Linked DNA regions of Homo sapiens: region 2 is linked to region 1. The links come from fine-mapping of genetic effects on gene expression. A gene starts in region 1. The other region holds a variant in brackets. All regions are shown on one strand. Distances are between the middles of the regions. Region 1 holds the start of SLC9A3 (solute carrier family 9 member A3). Region 2 overlaps EXOC3 (exocyst complex component 3).

Evidence for each region. PIP is the estimated chance that this variant, and not a neighbour inherited with it, causes the effect. A credible set is the group of variants that fine-mapping cannot tell apart.
Region 2: its variant is the best candidate, but not a certain one, in a credible set for the expression of SLC9A3 in atrial appendage (GTEx, PIP 0.87).

The regions. Positions count from the first base shown.
Region 1 is chr5:521,170-526,530 of GRCh38, reverse strand. SLC9A3 (solute carrier family 9 member A3) reads left to right here and starts at 2,082. Exons shown (of 17, transcript NM_004174.4): 1 at 2,082-2,419. The coding sequence starts at 2,209. LOC107986395 (a long non-coding RNA gene) reads right to left here and starts at 1,873. Exons shown (of 2, transcript XR_001742543.1): 1 at 1,568-1,873; 2 at 1-119. RefSeq lists an enhancer at 1-515.
Region 2 is chr5:463,201-468,561 of GRCh38, reverse strand. It overlaps EXOC3 (exocyst complex component 3), which reads right to left. Exons shown (of 13, transcript NM_007277.5): 10 at 4,150-4,272; 11 at 3,290-3,451; 12 at 2,717-2,844; 13 at 1,272-1,835. The coding sequence ends at 1,664. Among named protein-coding and RNA genes, the nearest start is that of SLC9A3-OT1, 7.1 kb to the left of the region's middle. The variant C/G (reference allele first, on the strand shown) is at 2,602.

The sequences.
Region 1 (5,361 bases):
TTTGAACAGCTTTGTGGAGAAAGGTTGTCGGCTCTTAGGACAGGCTGGTTGGGGGGTGGGGTGGCCGGAGGTCCAGTGGGCATCATGGAACACACTGGTCTGGTGGAAATTTGGCCTTCCTGTGGAATGCAAGGGCAACATCTTCAGAGAGGACGTCGTTCCTAACGGCTCCACCCAGGAACCATAAGGAAAGAGCAGGGAAGCTCCGGACTGGAGGGAATCCTGTTCTTGTCCTGCTGGCTTTTTCTCTGGGACAAGAGGCTGGGAGTGGAGTGGGGGACAGAGACAGGTGGGGCAGGGACACAGGCCAAGAGCGACTCCGATGCTCCCACCTCGCAAGACCATACTAGTGGCCAGTCACACACTTCCACTCCCCCGGTGCCCTGTCCAGACCCTGCAGTGGCCCAGGCCAGGGCTGCCCTCCCTCCACGCCACTCAGCAGCCGAGTCACCAGGCGAGCACCATCTGAATGCACCTTCCCTGTGCTACACGGGCCACTTCCATTAGCATGAAACTGGGGCCCTTGCAGGGTGAAGTCATTGAACTCAGCACTGTCCTCCTCAGGCCTCCGCAGCCCCCACTCAGATGTCAGAAGACACATCCATCCTCCATCTGCACCCACCCCACCGCCCACCTGCCCTTTGTCCACCTATCTGTCCTTCCATCCATCTATCATCCATCCGCTCAGCCACTATCTTGCGAGTGCTATTGTGTGCCCAGCTATCTTCCAAGCTCCTGGGATGTATGCATGAGCCCCTTGCTCGTGGAGCAGACATTCCCAGGGTGAGGGCAGACAGCTCAAGGTCAAAGCCAGCAGCCCCCAGGGCTGGGAGGTGAGCTGATTCCCGGAGCCAACCGAGTAAGCAGGGGAGGCGGGAGCTTAGCTGCCACAGTTGTGAGCTGAGTGGGTATCGGGTGGGACCAGAAGGTGGCATTGGAGCCAAGCCCCTGGGGAGCTGAGGAAGGGAGCACACAAGAGCCGTCCAAACAGAGGGAGCAGGGCGTGCAAAGGCCCCGAGAGGCGCCGATTGCTGGTGTGGGCCGTGGAGTGCATGGGGGTGGGGGTCAGGCAGTGGCTGGGGTCTGAGCTCCCGGGAGACGTTGAGCCTTTCCTCTGAGAGGGAGGGTCCCAATAGGAGGGACTGAAGGGGCAGGTAGAGGGCCGAGCAGGAGCCTTTGCAGGTGGCTGCAGGCTCCCAGAAGCCGCTGGTTTTGTGCACATTTTGAAAGTAGAGCAGATATGCTAAGAGCTTGGAAACCTTGTGAGCGAAAGAAGTCCACCTGCGTCCCAGGTCTGGGGCTGGAAGGCTGCAGGGTGGGCTTGGAGGAAAACAGGGGTGTGGTTTGCACAGTGGAGCCTGAGATGCTTAAGAGAGCCAGTGCTGCCGGAGCGGGCTGTGGGCAGAGGCCCCGCATCCGTGTGAAGCCCTGGGGGTATCGAATTGTTTTGGGCGGAGGTCTAAAGGCAGGGGATGGGGCAGGGGAGACCACGGGGGCCCCTGGGCTCCCATCTCAGAGCCTGGGGTGGGGGATGCTGGCTGGCGATGGGAGGGGCAGAGAGACTTACCAGCGCACCACGCAAGGCCTGGGCGCCCCCGAGTTCTGGTAAGTGGCCGGTCCGGCTGTGGAATGCAGGTTCCTGCTGAAGACAATAGCGAGGGGCTGTGTGAAGACACACCTGGGGCCCCTGTGCACCCTTGGGCCGCCCTGTGGGGTCTGCGCAGCCCCAGGCCCTGCGTTTATGAAGGAGGGTTGGGGCGAGCGCACCCACAGCTGCCCGGGCATCCCAGGAGCTGCGCGGAACCGCCTGTCCCGCTGCCCCGCGCTGTGCTCCCCACGCCCCAGGAAGGCGGCCGCGCAGTCCCGGGCTCGCTCTTGCCGCGACCTCCCGGACCTCCAGGCCGCGGGCTCCGGGGGAGGGTGGGCACCAGGGAGCGCGGGGTGGGCGTGCGCGGGCGGGGCGGGCGTGCCGGGAGCTGCGGCGGTGTCTGCGCTCGCGAGTGCGCGGCGGGGGCGGGCAGGCTCCGCCCCGGGGCGGGAGGGGGCCGCGGGATTAAAGGCCACCCCGGCGGGCGGGGATCGGACTGTAGCCGGTACCGGCACCGGAGCGCGCCGGGTCCTCGCCGGGTCCCAGCCCCGCGCGTCGGCCCAGCCCAGCCGGGACCCCCCGCGACATGCGCGTCCCAGCCCTGCGCTGAGCAGGCGGCAATGTGGGGACTCGGGGCCCGGGGCCCCGACCGGGGGCTGCTGCTGGCGCTGGCGCTGGGCGGGCTGGCGCGGGCCGGGGGCGTCGAGGTGGAGCCCGGCGGCGCGCACGGCGAGAGCGGGGGCTTCCAGGTGGTCACCTTCGAGTGGGCCCACGTGCAGGATCCCTACGTCATCGCGCTCTGGATCCTCGTGGCCAGCTTGGCCAAGATCGGTAAGTGGCCCCGGGGTCTCCGGATCTGCCCGCGGGGTGTGCGGCCGCCTCTGCTGGGCCTGGGGGCTTCGTTGTGGCCGCGCGCATCAGGTCGGAGCCGCGCGGCGGCCGCCCGGGAGAGTCCGGCTCTCGGGTCCAGCAGAGCGAGACTCGGGAGCGACTCTGGCCGCGCTAAGCCGCCCCTGCGGGTCCCGAGGTCTCCCCTCCCCGGCGGGGGCACAGCCTCGGAGCCCCGGACTCCCGGCTCCCGGGTCCCTGTGGGGTCTCCGCCCCGCCTCCGCTCCGAGCCCCGCAGACTGCAGGCTGCTCGCGCCCAGGGAGTCCCCGGGGCCGGGTTTCCTTCGGGGTTCTCAGGCTTTTTAGAGAAACGTCCTTGGAGTGATGGCGTTTTTTCGTGAGTTACAAGGGCAGAAAAGAAAAGCGGTGCTACCCGCATGAAACCCAGCAGAATCCTCCCTACAGGCGCAGCGTTCCCATTGGCGGGCCTCCTTTTTTTTTTTTTTTTTTAGAAAATCCCGGTCGGTCAGATTTCTCTTCTTCTTAACCGGCGCCAATGAACCAGTAATGTGGGCACGGCAGGTAGCTCCTGGCAAGGTGACAGGAAGGTCAGCTTCCTGAGGAGCTCGTGGGGATCAAAGTTTCATGTGTTGGTCCACAGGGTAGGGTCTCTCCAGGGGTGGCAGGGAGGTGGTCACTCGTGTGGAGGGGGGATTAGGGGGCCCGAGTGGGGCCAGGAGAAGCAAGATCAGAGCAGCAGGCGCCGCGGCAGGTTTCCAGAGCAGCTTTGGACTGGGGCGAGAGGAGGTTTCGATGCTGGGGCCGAGGAGGGGCGCCCACGCAGGACAGGGGAGGGACAGGCTCCGGGGAGAACAGCTGAGAGGACCTTGGCCTTGGTGGAACCTGGTACGCCCAGCAGGCTTGATTGGAGAAGGCGCCTTTTCCTTCAGTGACGCCTGCCGCCTGCCCTATTTATGCCAGGGTCTCCCCTCCCCTTCAGGCCCCTTGTGTGTTTGCTTTCTGTCTCATAAGGGCTCTTCTGAGCCCTCCCGCCTCCTCCCTTCTCCGCAGCCTCCTCCTCGCCCTGGTGTCTTTCAGCTCCCCGCCGGGCTGCCTGCTCTCCAGGCTCAGGCTGTCCTCCCTGGGCTTTCCACTGGGGGCTTGGGATGCTGGCCGGGGGGGAGTCTCTGAGGCTGGCTGCCTCCTACAGTTGATTTCCTTGAGAAGGGCCCCTGGGGCATCAGGGAGGTCCAGACTCAACCTGGGCTCTGCGGCCGCCCAGTCCTAAAGCTCACCCTGCTTTCCTCTGACGGGAGTGCCCCCCTGGTGTAAACTGAAAAGGTAATTTCTTTTTTTTTCTTTTTTTTTTTTTTTTGAGATAGAATTTTGCTCTTGTTGCCCAGGCTGGAGTGCAATGACGCGATCTCGGCTCACTGCAACCTCCACATCCTGCCTCAGCCTCCCGAGTAGCTGGGATTACAGGCATGAGCCACCACGCCCAGCTAATTTGTATTTTTAGTACAGACAGGGTTTCTCCATGTTGGTCAGGCTGGTCTTGAACTCCAGACCTCAGGTGATCCACCCGCCTCGGCCTCCCAAAGTGCTGGGATGACAGGCGTGAGCCACCGCGCCCGGCCGTGAATATCTAATTTCTGTACAAGCTGGGGCCTCTCCCAGTTTAGCCCAGTGTACAGAGTCAGAATCTGGCATCTGAAGGTCCAATGACAGCCGCCAGGCACCAGCCAGCCCCGCCTGGGAGCCGGCAGATAAGGCACACTGACCAGGGCTTTGCCTGGCCTCAGAGTTTGTTATTCACAGGGAAAAGCCTTCAGGTCTCCCAAACACTTGGACTGGTTCTGGGAAGACGTCCTTGAGGGCGGGGAGGCTGCCGGCTCCAGCAGCAACTCCCCGGGGCAGGGCGGTCCTTTACAAAGGCCCACCCTGATAGCACTCAGCGGCTGTCTTTGTCTCGGATTGTTGGCTCCACCTGGGAAGGCGAGCCTTACCCTGTGCAGCTGTGGGAGCTCATCGCGGTATCCCACAGGCGCAGACCCTCTCCAGACCTGCCCTTTACGCTCCCTGTCGTCCCCTCAACCCACTGTGCACTCTGCAGCCCCGGCAGTGACAGCTGAGGTCTGCTCTGGGTCTGCCCGGATTGGCCCCCAGGGTGTCCCACCCTCCATCCCCTCTCTGCCAGCCACACCTCTTGAACACAGCCCCCAGCCCTCCCTGTGTGCTTCCTCCCCCAACCCCTTCCCTGTGAACTCTGGACTTCTCAGATTCCACTGGCCCAGACCGTCCTCCTTGTGCAGCCAGCCTCAGGTGCACGACCTGTGTTCCCAGAGGACCCTCAGGTCCAGGCCTTCACAGACACCGGGGCCCAAGCCTGCACCACAGCGGGAACTTCTCCAGTTTCACCCAGCCTCCTCCACATGCCCACAGCCCCCGGACTGGGGTCTGAACCTACTAAGCTGCTTGGCACATTTTGTTGTTTAAAATGGTCAGGGGTTGGCCACACTCTTTCAGTCTCAAGTTACACGAACAGAAATGTCTCTTCCAGCAGAAAAGAGCTGCCATTCCTGTTGCTTTTCCAAACATTTGTTGAATTTCTCACACATCCTGAGAGTTTCTAACTCACAGCCCCAGCCTTCTTCAAGCCATTTGTAACCTGGTTGGGGAAATAAGAGTCCGGGTACCCTGAAACCCACAGCAATGTTGATCCCAGGAGATTTCTACTCCAGGCAGCTTGGGACAGAGGATGGCCAGAGGGCCAGAGCTGCCTCAAGCAAACACTGGGGCTGGGGCCTCAGCAGGTGGCCCAGGAGCCTGGGCAAGGAACAGGTGCTGCTGTTGGCCCACCAGCCTCAGGCCGCGTGTCTGGCTCCGGCAAGGGCTCCCCACAAGCCCCCTATTTGTGTGCACTGGGGTTCCCCTGCCTTTTACAG
Region 2 (5,361 bases), 58 kb after region 1:
CAAAGGACCCAAGGAGTAACTCTGGGGATGTCAAACAGGAGGGGACCAGGAGGGCACCCTCCAGGCTGAGGGGATGTCAGACAGGAGGGGACCAGGAGGGCGCCCTCCAGGCTGAGGGGATGTCAGACAGGAGGGGACCAGGAGGGCGCCCTCCAGGCTGAGGGGATGTCAGACAGGAGGGGACCAGGAGGGCGCCCTCCAGGCTGAGGGGATGTCAGACAGGAGGGGACCAGGAGGGCGCCCTCCAGGCTGAGGGGATGTCAGATACGAGGGGACCAGGAGGGCGCCCTCCAGGCTGAGGGGATGTCAGATACGAGGGGACCAGGAGGGCGCCCTCCAGGCTGAGGGGATGTCAGATACGAGGGGACCAGGAGGGCGCCCTCCAGGCTGAGGGGATGTCAGACAGGAGGGGATCAGGAGGGCGCCCTCCAGGCTGAGGGGATGTCAGACAGGAGGGGACCAGGAGGGCGCCCTCCAGGCTGAGGGGATGTCAGATACGAGGGGACCAGGAGGGCGCCCTCCAGGCTGAGGGGATGTCAGACAGGAGGGGATCAGGAGGGCGCCCTCCAGGCTGAGGGGATGTCAGACAGGAGGGGACCAGGAGGGCGCCCTCCAGGCTGAGGGGATGTCAGATACGAGGGGACCAGGAGGGCGCCCTCCAGGCTGAGGGGATGTCAGACATGAGGGGATCAGGAGGGCGCCCTCTAGGCTGAGGGGATGTCAGACATGAGGGGACCAGGAGGGCACCCTCTAGGCTGAGGGGATGTCAGACAGGAGGGGACCAGGAGGGCGCCATCCAGGCTGAGGGGATGTCAGACATGAGGGGATCAGGAGGGCACCCTCTAGGCTGAGGGGATGTCAGACAGGAGGGGACCAGGAGGGCGCCATCCAGGCTGAGGGGATGTCAGACAGGAGGGGACCAGGAGGGCGCCCTCTAGGCTGAGGGGATGTCAGACAGGAGGGGACCAGGAGGGCGCCATCCAGGCTGAGGGGATGTCAGACAGGAGGGGACCAGGAGGGCGCCCTCCAGGCTGAGGGGATGTCAGACATGAGGGGATCAGGAAGGCACCCTCTAGGCTGAGGGGATGTCAGACAGGAGGGGACCAGGAGGGCGCCCTCTAGGCTGAGGGGATGTCAGACAGGAGGGGACCAGGAGGGCGCCCTCCAGGCTGAGCGGAGACTTTTACTCTGTGATTGACAACAGTTCCTGGGCAATCCTAGATCAGTAGTCAGAAAACCTTAACTGGAAAAGAGAATGCATGGCGTTTTCATTTCTCTGAGGAAGCCGAGAAACTTTAATTAGGTGACGGGGTTCCGAGCACTTAAGCAGATGGGGTGCGGTGAAGGCCCAGGGAGGAGGAGGGCAGGGAGGTGCACGTCCTCTGTGCCCCACACACTTTCAACCACTGCAACAAACAAGCACCCAAGAGAGGCTGTGCGGCAGAGCCCTGCACCCACAGGCCTTTGACAGCACAGTGAGGGGCCTCCGCACGTGGCCTCGGGACGCTCACTCGACGCACACCCGGTGCATCACACTGGCACCTAAAGACAGGCCGTGCAGCTAAAAGGAGCACGTGTGGCCAAGGAGAGCAATCAGCTGTCCCGCGTTTCTAAAGGCAGGGACCGAGGCTGTGGAGGGGCGAGCAGGGCAGGCCGGCGGAGGCTACTTGAGCAGCTTGGCCACGTTCAGGCTGGGCACCACAATGTCCTTGAAGAGGGGCACGTAGCTGGGGCTGGCCTGTGCTGGGCCCTGCTCCAGGGTCTCCATGATGGTCTGCTTCATGTCACGGCTGGCGTCCCCACGCACAGCCAGCAGCGCACCGATGTGGTCATCCCTGGGGATGGGGAGATGTCAGCCCATGCCCACTTAGCAGCCCTGTGATGCACCACGCTGCCAGGGACTCACGGCTTCACCACCCCAGCTGACAGAACACAGGGGGTGAGGACCGCTGCAGACAAATTGCACCTTTCCCTTTTCAGCGGGAGACAAGCCTGCATTTTCATCTTACTCTGTCTTTTCTCAATCCAATTGCAGAAAGATTTTTCAACACTGCTTTTATAAATCTTTGTTCCGGCCCAACCAGAGGGGAGACCGTGGAGAGCTCAAGACCCCGTTTTTCCACGTTTAACCAGCGAGATGATGGGACGGAGGTGACGCGGCTGCAGCCATGGAGGTGGCCCCTTGGGGAAGTGGCAGGTGCCCTGAGACAGGGGCCGCAAAGGCTGGCCTGGGGCCTGGAGCCAGCATGGTGGAGGGGGGACGTGCGTGGGTCCCCTTCCCTGGACCTGGTACTGGGGACTCCCTGTAATCACGTCCTCGGAAGGTGTCTGGTCCAAGCTGCACTTGGGCCCTCCCGAGTCCACCATGAGCACAGAGGAAACTTCCTAAACTCGCCCCACTGAGGCCACTCCACAGCCCAAATCTTCCCCACCACACACAGCAGAGCTGTCACAGCCCCGCCCCCACCCCACTGTCCCCACCCGGGATGTGCCCCTCGAGCTCCACCCACCCACACTGTAGCCCAGGCCAGGTGGAAGGCAGCACAGAAGCAGCTCTGCTCCCTGCGCCTGGGCCCCGCTGTGCCGCACCTGAACCCTTGC[C/G]GTGCTGCAGGGCTGAACTTGCGAACCAGGAGCCCCACCCGCCCCAGACAGAAGGAGGGACCTGCCGCTCCACTCCAGGATTCTAAGGCAGGATTCTAAGACGTGCATCCCTTACCTGATGTCTGGATACTTGCTGACCAGAGTGGAGACCTCCAGGTAGAGCAGAGAAGGGTCTGTCAGCTTGATCACTTCGGCCACAGCCACGATGGTGTCGCAGTATCCGTCCACGTCTTCCCCGAAACCCTGGAAGGCAGCAGCAATGTGAGGAGCCGCCCTCGGCTGTCCCGCGGCGCTGGGAGCAGCTGGATTCTGGCTGAGCCCCTTCCTGACTGGGAACCTCCCTCTTCACCTGACTCCTCAGGATCTACTCTGAAAGCTCAGTGACAGGGCCAGGGGTCTGGGGTGAGGGCGAGACCGTGGGAGGCAGCCAGCACCTCGCAGCGCAGGACAGACTGGGAAGCGTCCGTCAGGGAGCTGTGGGCGGCCTCGGGAAGCCGGCGGGGCCGGCGCGTCTACCTCTGTGGACATTCGTGTCCAACCACAAGGTCAGGCAGGACCTGGACCCAGGCTCCCCCCGCCTGACAAACACACGACACACTCCCATCTACTGGCCCGAGTCCCGGGGTGGAGGCTGAACAGGGCCGCGGAGCGACAGGCCTTCTCCAGCCCGGACCTGCGCGACACTCACGGACGCCAGCTTCCGGAACAGGAAGCGCAGCTGCTCTGCCTCCCTAACCATCTTCTCGGCACCCTCCTTGCGCTCCTCCGGGCTCCGGAAGGAAATGCGCTTCTGCATGACCGCCCGCAGGTACTCCACCACCACGCGCCGGTGCGCCTCGGCCGTCATCCTCTGGGGAGACACGCGCGGTCAGCGGCAGGCTCCACGGCTCTGGCGGCCAGGAGCACCCTCATTGAAACCCAGGCTGGGGCTCCCGGTGGCTCCCCGGAGGCTCTGAGCCCACTCCTCCTCGCTCCGCCACGGCTCTGGCATCTCACCGCAGAGGAGGAGCGGGGGCTCAGTGGGGGAACAGTGACGGTGACCTGGACCCCCGCACCAGGCCAGCTCCGGCCCCCAGCAGGACAGACGCGGGCGAGGCAGTGCCGCGCATGAGCACTCGGTCCACAGACAGGCCCGTGTCAGTGGCTGCTGCTGTCCTTTGATAACGACCGCAGCATCTGGAAAACGCGGCAGGCACTTTGGAGGAAAGAGGAACCTGGGTCCTGCAGGAAGGAGGGTCTGAAGCGGAAAGAAATCCCTGGGGCCTCAGGGAGTGAGTGGAAGGCAAGGAGCTAAGACGGGGCACGCGGGCCTCTCCGGGAACCATGGCTCCCTCCACCTCGAGGGCCATGCCACAGGGCCCCGGCCATTCTCACCAGAGCCCCGTCCCAGGGAGGTGGCGTCCGCAGAGCCTATTGCCTCCCTTGGGCTGATAGGACAACAAGTGAACGTTCACTCACGGAGGGACTCGCTGGATGCTGAATTCTGAGCAGGGTGAGAGGTGAGCCCTAGCGTCAAGGTGATGAGGGAACTAGGTCCCACCTTCTTACCTTCTTATACGGCTTTTTAATTTTGGCAAAATCGTTGAAATAGTCTTCCACGGTGACACAGATAATGTCTACAGCGTTTGACCCTAATAGCCACTTCTTCGTCATCAATTCATTCAGATGTTGCTGAAAAGCAGAAACAGATCATAGAAATCATCACCTCAACGTCCCACGAGAGCCGAGTGCATGTGGGAGGGAGGCACTTCCTCACCTCAACGCCCCACGAGAGCTGCGTGCAGTGTGGGAGGGAGGCACTTCCTCACCTCAACGCCCCACGAGAGCTGCGTGCAGCGTGGGAGGGAGGCACTTCCTCACCTCAACGTCCCACGAGCACTGAGTGCGTGTGGGAGGGAGGCACTTCCGTGCATCTTTGCTACGTCACACTGCTTTTCTAATTACAACAGCAATGCGCACTCAGGTAAAAATTTGATTATATAATCTGCAAATGTGTACTTTAAGTATAGGAGATTTATACTACAATTTCTGTGATGAGCTTCCCAAAATGACATGTTAAAGATGGAAATATCTGTGCATGTATACATTTTACCTTTAGTGGCTACATATATTTATCGTATTTATTTGCCCAATTCTCTATTGATGGACATTTAAATTTTTTTCACATTTTGCAATAATGCAACAGTGAATCTGTATAATTCTGATGAAATTCCTTAAAGTTGAATTTTTCAGTCAAAAAGTATACACATTAAAACCAATAAAAGTATACAAATTAAAACTCCAATAAAAGTATACAAATTAAAACTCCAATAGAAGTGTACAAATTAAAACTCCAGTAAAAGTTACAGATTAAAACTACAATGGCTGTATTTCCAAGCTGCCCTCAAAAACCCAACCCAGTTCAGGCCCACACAGAATACAAACAGCCCCTTTTTCCCACACCCTCAACAAGCCTGAACAGCATCCACGTCTCCGGCTCCTGCCATCCTGCTGAGCAGCAGGTCCTGTTGAGCATTCATTGCTTCGAGGATAAGATCGGGCGTCTAGTTTCACGATGAGGACACTGGTGTTGCTTTTAATGTGAGGTGGCCGTTCATGTCTTTTGCCCATTTTTCTATATATTCTTTTTAAATTTTGAAATAATTTCAAATGTAAATATTTTCTTCTTGCTAAGTCATATTTGCGAAAGTTACAAGTGTCTGCCTCTTTGGGGACACTTCCACACACATTTCTGTTCTCTTGCACAACCAGACACTGATG